Regions from separate parts of the Homo sapiens genome. Here all the other regions are linked to region 1. Evidence: fine-mapped expression QTL. A gene starts in region 1. Each other region holds a variant in brackets. All regions are shown on one strand. Distances are between the middles of the regions.

The links. PIP is the estimated chance that this variant, and not a neighbour inherited with it, causes the effect.
Region 2: its variant is the best candidate, but not a certain one, in a credible set for the expression of PPM1N in monocytes (TOPMed, PIP 0.55).
Region 3: its variant is the best candidate, but not a certain one, in a credible set for the expression of PPM1N in whole blood (TOPMed, PIP 0.75).

Annotation. Positions count from the first base shown.
Region 1 is chr19:45,497,337-45,500,095 of GRCh38, reverse strand. PPM1N (protein phosphatase, Mg2+/Mn2+ dependent 1N (putative)) reads right to left here and starts at 1,653. Exons shown (of 5, transcript NM_001080401.2): 1 at 685-1,653; 2 at 30-147. The coding sequence starts at 1,623. RefSeq lists a silencer at 1,356-1,425.
Region 2 is chr19:45,535,299-45,538,057 of GRCh38, reverse strand. It overlaps a transcript of OPA3 not described here. Among named protein-coding and RNA genes, the nearest start is that of VASP, 29 kb to the right of the region's middle. The variant T/C (reference allele first, on the strand shown) is at 1,530.
Region 3 is chr19:45,455,812-45,458,570 of GRCh38, reverse strand. No RefSeq gene overlaps it. Among named protein-coding and RNA genes, the nearest start is that of FOSB, 11 kb to the left of the region's middle. RefSeq lists enhancers at 1,790-2,756, 2,745-2,759, 2,757-2,759. The variant C/T (reference allele first, on the strand shown) is at 1,535.

The DNA of each region.
Region 1 (2,759 bases):
CTCCAGCTGGGCCCCCAGAGTCTGCTCACCAGCGATTCTGCAGCCCAGGGCTGCGTCCAGTGCTAGCTCCCTCCTGATCGCCTCCTCAGAAGGCCTAGGGGCCCCAGGGAAGCAGACCAGGATGCAGGTCATGTTGTCCAGGCTGCCCTGAAGCCGGTGGAGAAAAAGGAGCCCGGTGGGGGAGAGTCCAAGGCAGAGCTTCCCAACAATCCCCAGGTTCAAGTCCCCCACTTCATTCTACTTATGCCCATTTCTTTCGCGTCCCACCCACCTGCCAATCCTCTCTTACTGGGACCAAACCCGGTCCTAGGCGCTCCCAATTGAGAGAACAATGCCTTTTCCCTAAAGCTCCGCCCGCTCTGATGTTTACCTGCTCTTCCACCTTCCAGCACTAATCAATACTTCCGGCCCGGCTCCTACGACCCAGAATCGCCCCTTTCCAAAAGACCACGCCCTTTCTCTTAAGTCCCTTCCACTAACTCTCCCGTGCCTCAAAGCATCCCTCAGGCTCCGCCCCTGTATTTTGGCCCTGCCCACTTCAGGCCACGCCCTTCGCTTGAGTCCTATCCCCTCCTTTGCTAGCTTTACTCTTGCCTCTCTATCAAAGCCCTCCTCCCCAAAACCCCGAGGCTCTCTCCCTCTGCTGCACCAAGCCCCAAAGGTACCACGCCACGCCCCCAGGACCTTGCACAGACACGTGTCCAACAGCTGCGCGCAGAGAAGCTCTGGGGCCAGGCCCAAGCGGAGGCGTGAAGCCACCAGTCCCGCCAGGGCAGCACCAGACACAGTGTCCCAGACGCCATCAGAGGCCAGGAGCATGAACTCGTCCTCAGCCTGGCGTGCCAGTGCGGCCACCTCTGGCTCCGCAGAAACGAGCTGTAGCTCGGGGGGCCTCCCCGGAGCCTCCTTGTAGGTAAAGTCGCCCAACGCTCGCGACACGGCCAGAGAGCCCTCGACGCGGCGGCGGCGGATGGTGCCGCCAGCGGCGTGGATGCGCTCGCGTTCCCGGGGTCGAAGGGGCCGGTGGTCCTCTGTGCTGAAGGCCACGGCGCCAGCGCGGCTCAGCACCGCGCGGGAGTCACCGCAGTGCGCCAGGTACAGAAACCGCGGGGAGACCAGCAACACCACGGCCGTGCAGCCGCCCGTTTCCACGCGGGGCCAGAGGGAGCGCAGGCGCTCGTCGGCGCTCAAGAAGGCTCGGCGCAGCGCCTCGCGCACGCCCTCGGGCTCGCTAGGCTCCGGGCCCAGCTCCTGGAGCACATGGCCTGGCAAATGGCGTGCACCGAAGCGGGCAGCTCGAGCCCCACCGTGGCCGTCGAGGACGGCAAACAAGGCCCAGCCCGGGGGCAGACCAGGTAACGAAAGCCAAGTGCAGTGAGCATCCTCCATGCGCGCGCGCCAGCCTTGCGCTGCGCTCGCCCCGAAGCGCAGGCCCCCAGACGCCTCGGCACCCCCGTGCGGCCGCTGGGCGCGGCGCGGCGCTGTCAACAGAGACCGAGGCCCTTCGGGGGCCCTGCGCCCCGCCTCCTCCTCCTCCTCTTCCTCCCTCCCCTCCTTCTCCCTCTCCTTTTTCTTGCAAGCGGTCCAGAGGAGACGCTGCAGCTGGCGGGCCAGGACCGCCATCCTTCAGCCCTGGGATCAGGAAGGCTCCACCCTGTACACCTGCCCGCCCCCTCCATTAATCCCCTCCGCTGTGAGATTTTAAACCATCTAAATCTCCTTCCTGTCCTTTGACCTGCTCTTTAGGCGGGTCACTAGAAGGAATTACACTTCTGGGTCTCCTGTTTCCTGCACCTACAAAGCGGGGTTTGGGATCTGAATCAGGAAAAAAAAAGAAAAAAGATAATACTGTACCAGTGGCAAACTATTACATAGTACTAATGTGTCACACACTGTTATACATCATCATCTCCAGTTTACATATGGAAGAAGAAACAGAGTCACAGAAGTAACCGGTGTTCCAGGGAAACTAATTCTAGAATCTGTGTTCTCAACACAACACTCAGTCCAAGCTCCTCCCACCTCAGTGGTACAGCCCCCAGCCTCAAAACCTGTAAATACCATACTTGGCCGGGCGCGGTGGCTCACGCCTATAACCCCAGCACTTAGGGAGGCCGAGGCAGGCGGATCGCTTAAGCCCAGGAGTTTGAGACCAGCCTGGGAAACATAGCGAGACCCCGTCTCTACAAAAATTAACATTTAGCCAGGCGCGGTGGAACACACCTGTGATCCCAGCTACTCAGGAGGCTTAGGTGGGAGGATCACCTGAGCCCGGGAGGTCGAGGCTGCAGTGAGCCGTGATCGTATCACTGCACTCCAGCCTGGGCAACAGAGCGAGACCCTGTCTCAAAAAGATATATATATATATATATATATATATATATATATATATATATACATATTTTTTTTTTCTTTACTGTTTTTAGTTCGACCCCTCCCCTCTGGGGCTTCGCTTATTTTCTCTTCCAGGCCCCGCCCATCCAGGATTCAGGCACACAGCTCCAGACCCTTCTAATTTTCGCAGACCTGGAATCGCCTGGAATCCGACCCCACCCAGTTATATTTGAATAATTCCCTGTTGCTTTAGCCCTGCCCACGTTTGAGCTCCTCCGCGTGCCCCAAAAGTTTCTGAATCGTTTCATTCGGCCCCCTTTCTCGCTCCCTCTGCAAATCTAGGCTCGGACCCTACCTCAGAGCATTAGAATCTTTCCACCCCCTCCTCAATGGCACCCCGAGCACCACCCCAACCCACCCAGGGA
Region 2 (2,759 bases), 38 kb before region 1:
ACCATCTCAGCTCACTGCAACCTGCAACCTGCACCTCCTGAATTCAGGCAGTCCTCCCGCCTCAGCCTCCTGAGTAGCTGGGACTACAGGCACACACCACCACACCCAGCTAATTTTTATTGAAAACATATATATTATGAAATATTGCAGACATACAGAAAACAATATAATGAATAACCTTGTACCCACCACTTAGAATTAATAGAAATGAACATTTTGTCCTCTTTGCTTTGGTTTTTAAAGAGAGAAAGCTGAAGCTACAGTTTAGTCTCGTCATTCTCCCTCCCTGCTCTGGCACTCGGGAGGCTGAGGCAGGAGAATCGCTTGAAACCGGAGGGCAGAGGTTGCAGTGAGCCGAGATCGCACCACTGCACTCCAGCCTGGGCAACAAGAGCGAAACTCCATCTCAAAAAAAGAAAATAAAAGAAAAGAAAAAGATACCATCCTCTTTTGTGAGTCAAGTCCTTCTCCACTAGGTTCTCTACCCTTCCCCTTTTGATTGGCAGGAGGTATCTGTATGTCCTAAATTTGAGTTATTTGTCAGATTGATGTATTGCAAATGGCTTCTTCCAGTCTATGATTTGCCTTTTCCCTCTCTTGCTGGTGTCTTTTGAAGAATGAAAGTTCTTTTCTTGTTTTTTTTTTTTTTTTTTTTTTTTTTGAGACAGAGTCTTGCTCTGTCATCCAGGCTGGAGTGCAGTGGCACCATCACAACTCATTACAGCCTTCAACTCTCGGGCTTAAGTGATCCTCCTCGCTCAGCCTGCTGAGTAGCTGGGAGGCGGAGGTTGCAGTGAGCTGAGGTTGCGCCATTGCACTCCAGCCTGGGCGACAGAGCGAGACTCCATTTCAAAAAACAAACAAACAAAAAACAAGTTCGAGACAAGCCTGACCAACATGGCGAAACCCCATCTCTACTAAAAAGTTTTTTAAAAATTAGCCTGGCATGGTGGCAGGTGCACCAGCATACCGGGCTAATTTTTTATTTTTTGTAGAGATGGGGTTTCACCATGTTGCCCAGTATGGTCTTGAACCCCTTCTCTGAAGCAATCCTCCCACCTTGGCCTTCCAAAGCACAGTTTATAGGCATGAGCCAGTACACCCAGCCTCCTACTTTTTTTTTCTAAAAGTGTTATTTTTGTGTCTATCATATTTTGATCTACAATCCCTGTGGAATTAATTTTTGTGTATTATGTGAGGTAGATGTTAAGGTTTATTTTTTTCTCTGTGAATATTCAAGTGATCCAACGTGTCTTAAAAAGTCCATTCTTTTCCCACTGCACTACAGTGTCACTTTCGTCACAAGTCATATGACTGTGCATGTGTGAATATTTCTGGATTCTCTACGCTTTACCACTGGCCTGTCTATTCATGTGGAAATGCCACCCTGTTTTGATGATTATAGCTTTATGATAGCTTTATATCTGGTAGTGTAAGGTCTCCAGTTTTTCTCTTCAGTATTACTATTCTTGGCCCTTTGTGTTTCCATACACTTTTTTTTTTTTTTTTGAGACAGAGTTTCACTCTTG[T/C]CGCCAAGAGTGGAGTGCAGTGGCACGATCTTGACTTACTGCAACCTCTGCCTCCAAAGTTCAAGCAATTATCCTGCCTCAGCCTCCCTAGTAGCTGGGATTATAGGCACCCGTCACCATGCCTGGCTAATTTTTTGTTGTATTTTTAGTAGAGACGGGGTTTTGCCATGTTGGCCAGGCTGGTCTCAAACTCCTGACCTCATGTGATCCGCCTGCCTCAGCCTCCCAGAGTGCTGGGATTACAGGCATGAGCCACCGTGCCCGGCCCACATTTTTTTTTTTAATTTTTTTTTTTTTTTTTGAGATAGAGTCTTGCTGTGTCATCCAGCTGGAGTGCAGTGGTGTGATCTCGGCTCACTGCAACCTCCACCTCCTGGGTTCATGCAATTCTCCTTCCTAAGCCTCCTGAGTAGCTGAGATTACAGGTGCATGCCACCACACCTGGCTAATTTTTTAATTTTTTCAGTAGAGACAGGGTTTCACCATGTTGGCCAGGCTGGTCTCGAACTCCTGACCTCAGGTGATCCGCCTACCTTGGCCTCTCAACGTACTGGGGTTGCAGGCATGAGCCATCACACCCGGCAAGAAAACCAGTTTCTAGCAGGGTGTGGCAGCAGGCACCTTTAGTCCCAGCTACTCAGGAGGCTGAGGTGAGAGAATCTCTTGAGCTCAGGAGATCAAGGCTATAGTGAGCTATAATTGTGCTATTGCACTCCAGCCTGGGTGACAGGGTGAGACCTCAACTCTTAAAAAAAAAAAAAAAAAAGAAAAGAAAAAAACAGTTATTATGTTCAAACAATTAAAGTGTATATGTACAATTAAAATAATTTATAAACAAATTATATGACTAAGAAGAATAAGAACTAATTAGGCTGGGCATGGCGGTTCATGCCTGTAATCCCAGCACTTTGGGAGGTCAAGGCAGTTGGATCGCTTGAGCCCAGGAGTTCGAGACCAGCCTGAACAACATGGCGAAACCCTGTCTTTACAGAAAATTACAAAAATTAGCCAGGCATGGTGTTGTGTCCCTGCAGTCCCAGCTACTCAGGAGGCTGAAGTAGGTGGATCACTTGAGGCTGCAGTAAGCTATGATTGCACCACTGCACTCCAGCCTGGGTGACAGAATGAGACCTTATCTCAAAAAAAAAAAAAAAAAAAAGTAATAATTTATCAAGATCACTGCATATAAGGTACGGAAATCAGTTTATTCCTATCATCAGTACCAGCAAC
Region 3 (2,759 bases), 42 kb after region 1:
GGTGAAACCCCATCTTTACTAAAAATACAACAAATTAGCTGAGTGTATTGGTGGGCACCTGTAATCCCAGCTACTCGGGGGGCCGAGGCAGGAGAATCACTTGAACCCAGGAGGTAGAGGTTGCAGTGAGCCAAGATCGTGCCACTGCACTCCAGCCTGGGCAACAGAGTGAGATTCCATCTCAAAAAACAAAAAACAAAAAGACCCACTGACTTGCTTGGAGTGGCATCCAAATCTATAGAACAAGGCACTCTAGGCACACAGATACACGAATCACACACCTAGCTTCCACTGCCATGCAGCCTCTTCCACACACACTCACAACTACACACACACACACGGGTTCACATATATGAGTATGCACAGAGTAGGGCAGACACAGACACACCCAGGTACAAACACAGACCTAAGCAGAGAGCCACCCTTGGATACAGACTTGTCCCAGGCCCTGGCCAGGGGTGCCACTCACTGTGGGGGCTGTCTCTCACCCACCCCCAATCCAGGGGGCACACACTGTGCAATGTGTCACTCACTGACTACAACCACTCCAGGCATTGGGTGGTGAGAGTGCTTAGTGAGGCTGGAGTAAGCCAGGAGGACTTCCTGGTGGAGGTGGATCTAGATAATCATGATTGAGTTCTGAAGAGTTATGAATGAGGAGGGAGTCCCTGAAGCACTCTCTCCCTACTACAGACATATATAACCAAAGAAGAGGCAGCAGGAAGGACTGCAGGGAGGTAAGAAGTAGAACTGGACCAAGGCAGTGAGGGTGACTGTTTTGGAGGCCTTCCTAGTTGGACTTAGGGATAAAAATAATGTGTATTTGGCCAGGCACGGTGGCTCACGCCTGTAATCCCAACACTGTGGGAGGCCAAGGTGGGTGGATCACCTAAGGTCTGGAGTTCGAGACCAGCCTGACCAACATGGTGAAACCCCGTCTCTTCTAAAAATACAAAAATTAGCTGGGCATGGTGGTAGGGTCCTGTAATCCCTACTACTTGGGAGGCTGAGACAGGAGAATCGCTTGAACCTGGGAGGCGGAGGTTGCAGTGGGCCGAGATTGCACCACTGCACTCCAGCCTGGGCAACAGAGTGAGACTCCATCACCGAAAAAAAAAAAAAAAAGAAAGAAAGAAACAAAAAAAGGGAAAATAATATGTTTAGTACTAAGAATCATAACAGAGTCACTTGAGAAAGCTTACCGTGTATGTACCAAGTGCCACAAATACAGATGCAGTTGACTCTCTTTTTTCTTCTTCTTTTTTTTTTTTTTTTTTTTTTTTTGAGACAAGGTCTTATTCTGTCACCCAGGCTGGAGTGCAGTGGCACAATCTCAGCTTACTGCAACTTCCATCTCCCAGGTTCAAGTGATCCTCCCACCTCAGCATCCTGAGTAGCTGGGACTACAGGCATGAGCCACCATGCTTAGCTAATTTTTTGATTTTTTGGTAGAGATGGCATCTCACTATGTTTCCCAGGCTGGTCTCGAACTCTTGGGCTCCGGCGATCCACCCACCTTGGCCTCCCAAAATGT[C/T]GGGATTACAGGCGTGCCAGCCACCAAAAAAGCGAGAGGATAGCCTGAGCTCAGGAGTTCAAGACCAGCCTGGGAAACATAGTGAGACGTCATCTCCATTATTTAAAAAAAAAAAATGTAGAATGCCTAGAACAGCACCTGGCAGAAAGTATGTTCCCCGTAAGCATAGCTATTACAATAATAGTGATTTTTTTTTTTTTTTTTTTTTGCTATAGGATCTTGTTCTGTTGTCTAGGCTGGAGTACAGTGGTGCAATCAATAGCTCACTGCAGTCTCAAACTCCAACACTCCAGCAATCCACCCTCCACAGCCTCCTGAGTACCTGGGACTACAGGTGCACACCACCACATCCAGCTAATTTTTAAATTTTTTCTTTGTAGAGAAGGGGTCTTGCTATGATGTCCAGGCTGGTCTTGAACTTCTGGCCTCCAAGGGATCCGCCTACCTCTGCCTCACGAGTCACTGTGCCTGGCCTAATAATGCTTGTTAATACCCCCACTCAACAGATGAGGAAACTGTCCCTTAGGCCTCAGTCCCTTAGGGAACTTGCAGGCTTATGGGTAGTGAGGCCCCGCTGGCCTGGGGTGGGTGGAGTCAGGGCCTCCCCAGGCCGGGTGTTGAGTGTGCGTGTGTGCCTTTGCGTGTGTAAGCACATTGGTGATTCCATTGTCCTCCTGACTGACTCTTACGACCAAGTCTCTTACGATTTGGTGATTCTCTGCGCAAACACTCAGACCCCATCCCACCCCTGTGGGTCGCCCAGCCGCTGCCCACAAGCCGCAGCCTCCCCGTCACACCCACACGTGCTTCCTCCTCACCCGCCAGGGCCTCCCCACAGGCTCTCCTTCCCAAACTTTCTCCTTCCTGCCCCACATGGACGCCTGTGGCTGGGTGGTCTCTGGCTGTAGCCACCCTGTCCCTGACTCAGGCCCCATGCCCCCTCACTGACCCCTGTGTGCCCGGCCCAACCCCCGCAGCCAGACGGCCACTCGGGGGTGTTGCGGGGGGTCACAGCAGGCCACGTGCCCGGGGTGGCTGAATTCCGCCTGTGATTCAGTCAGCTTGTCTAGGCTGCCGGGGGTGCCCTGGCCGGGTGATGTCAGCGGCCAGGTATGTGGCTGGGGTTTCTCCCAGGGTGACTCAGGCTCCTGAACTACCCTCTCCCTCCTGCAGACACTCTGGGCTGCTGTCCAGGGCAGGCAGCCGGCTGGCTGCCTGACACTCC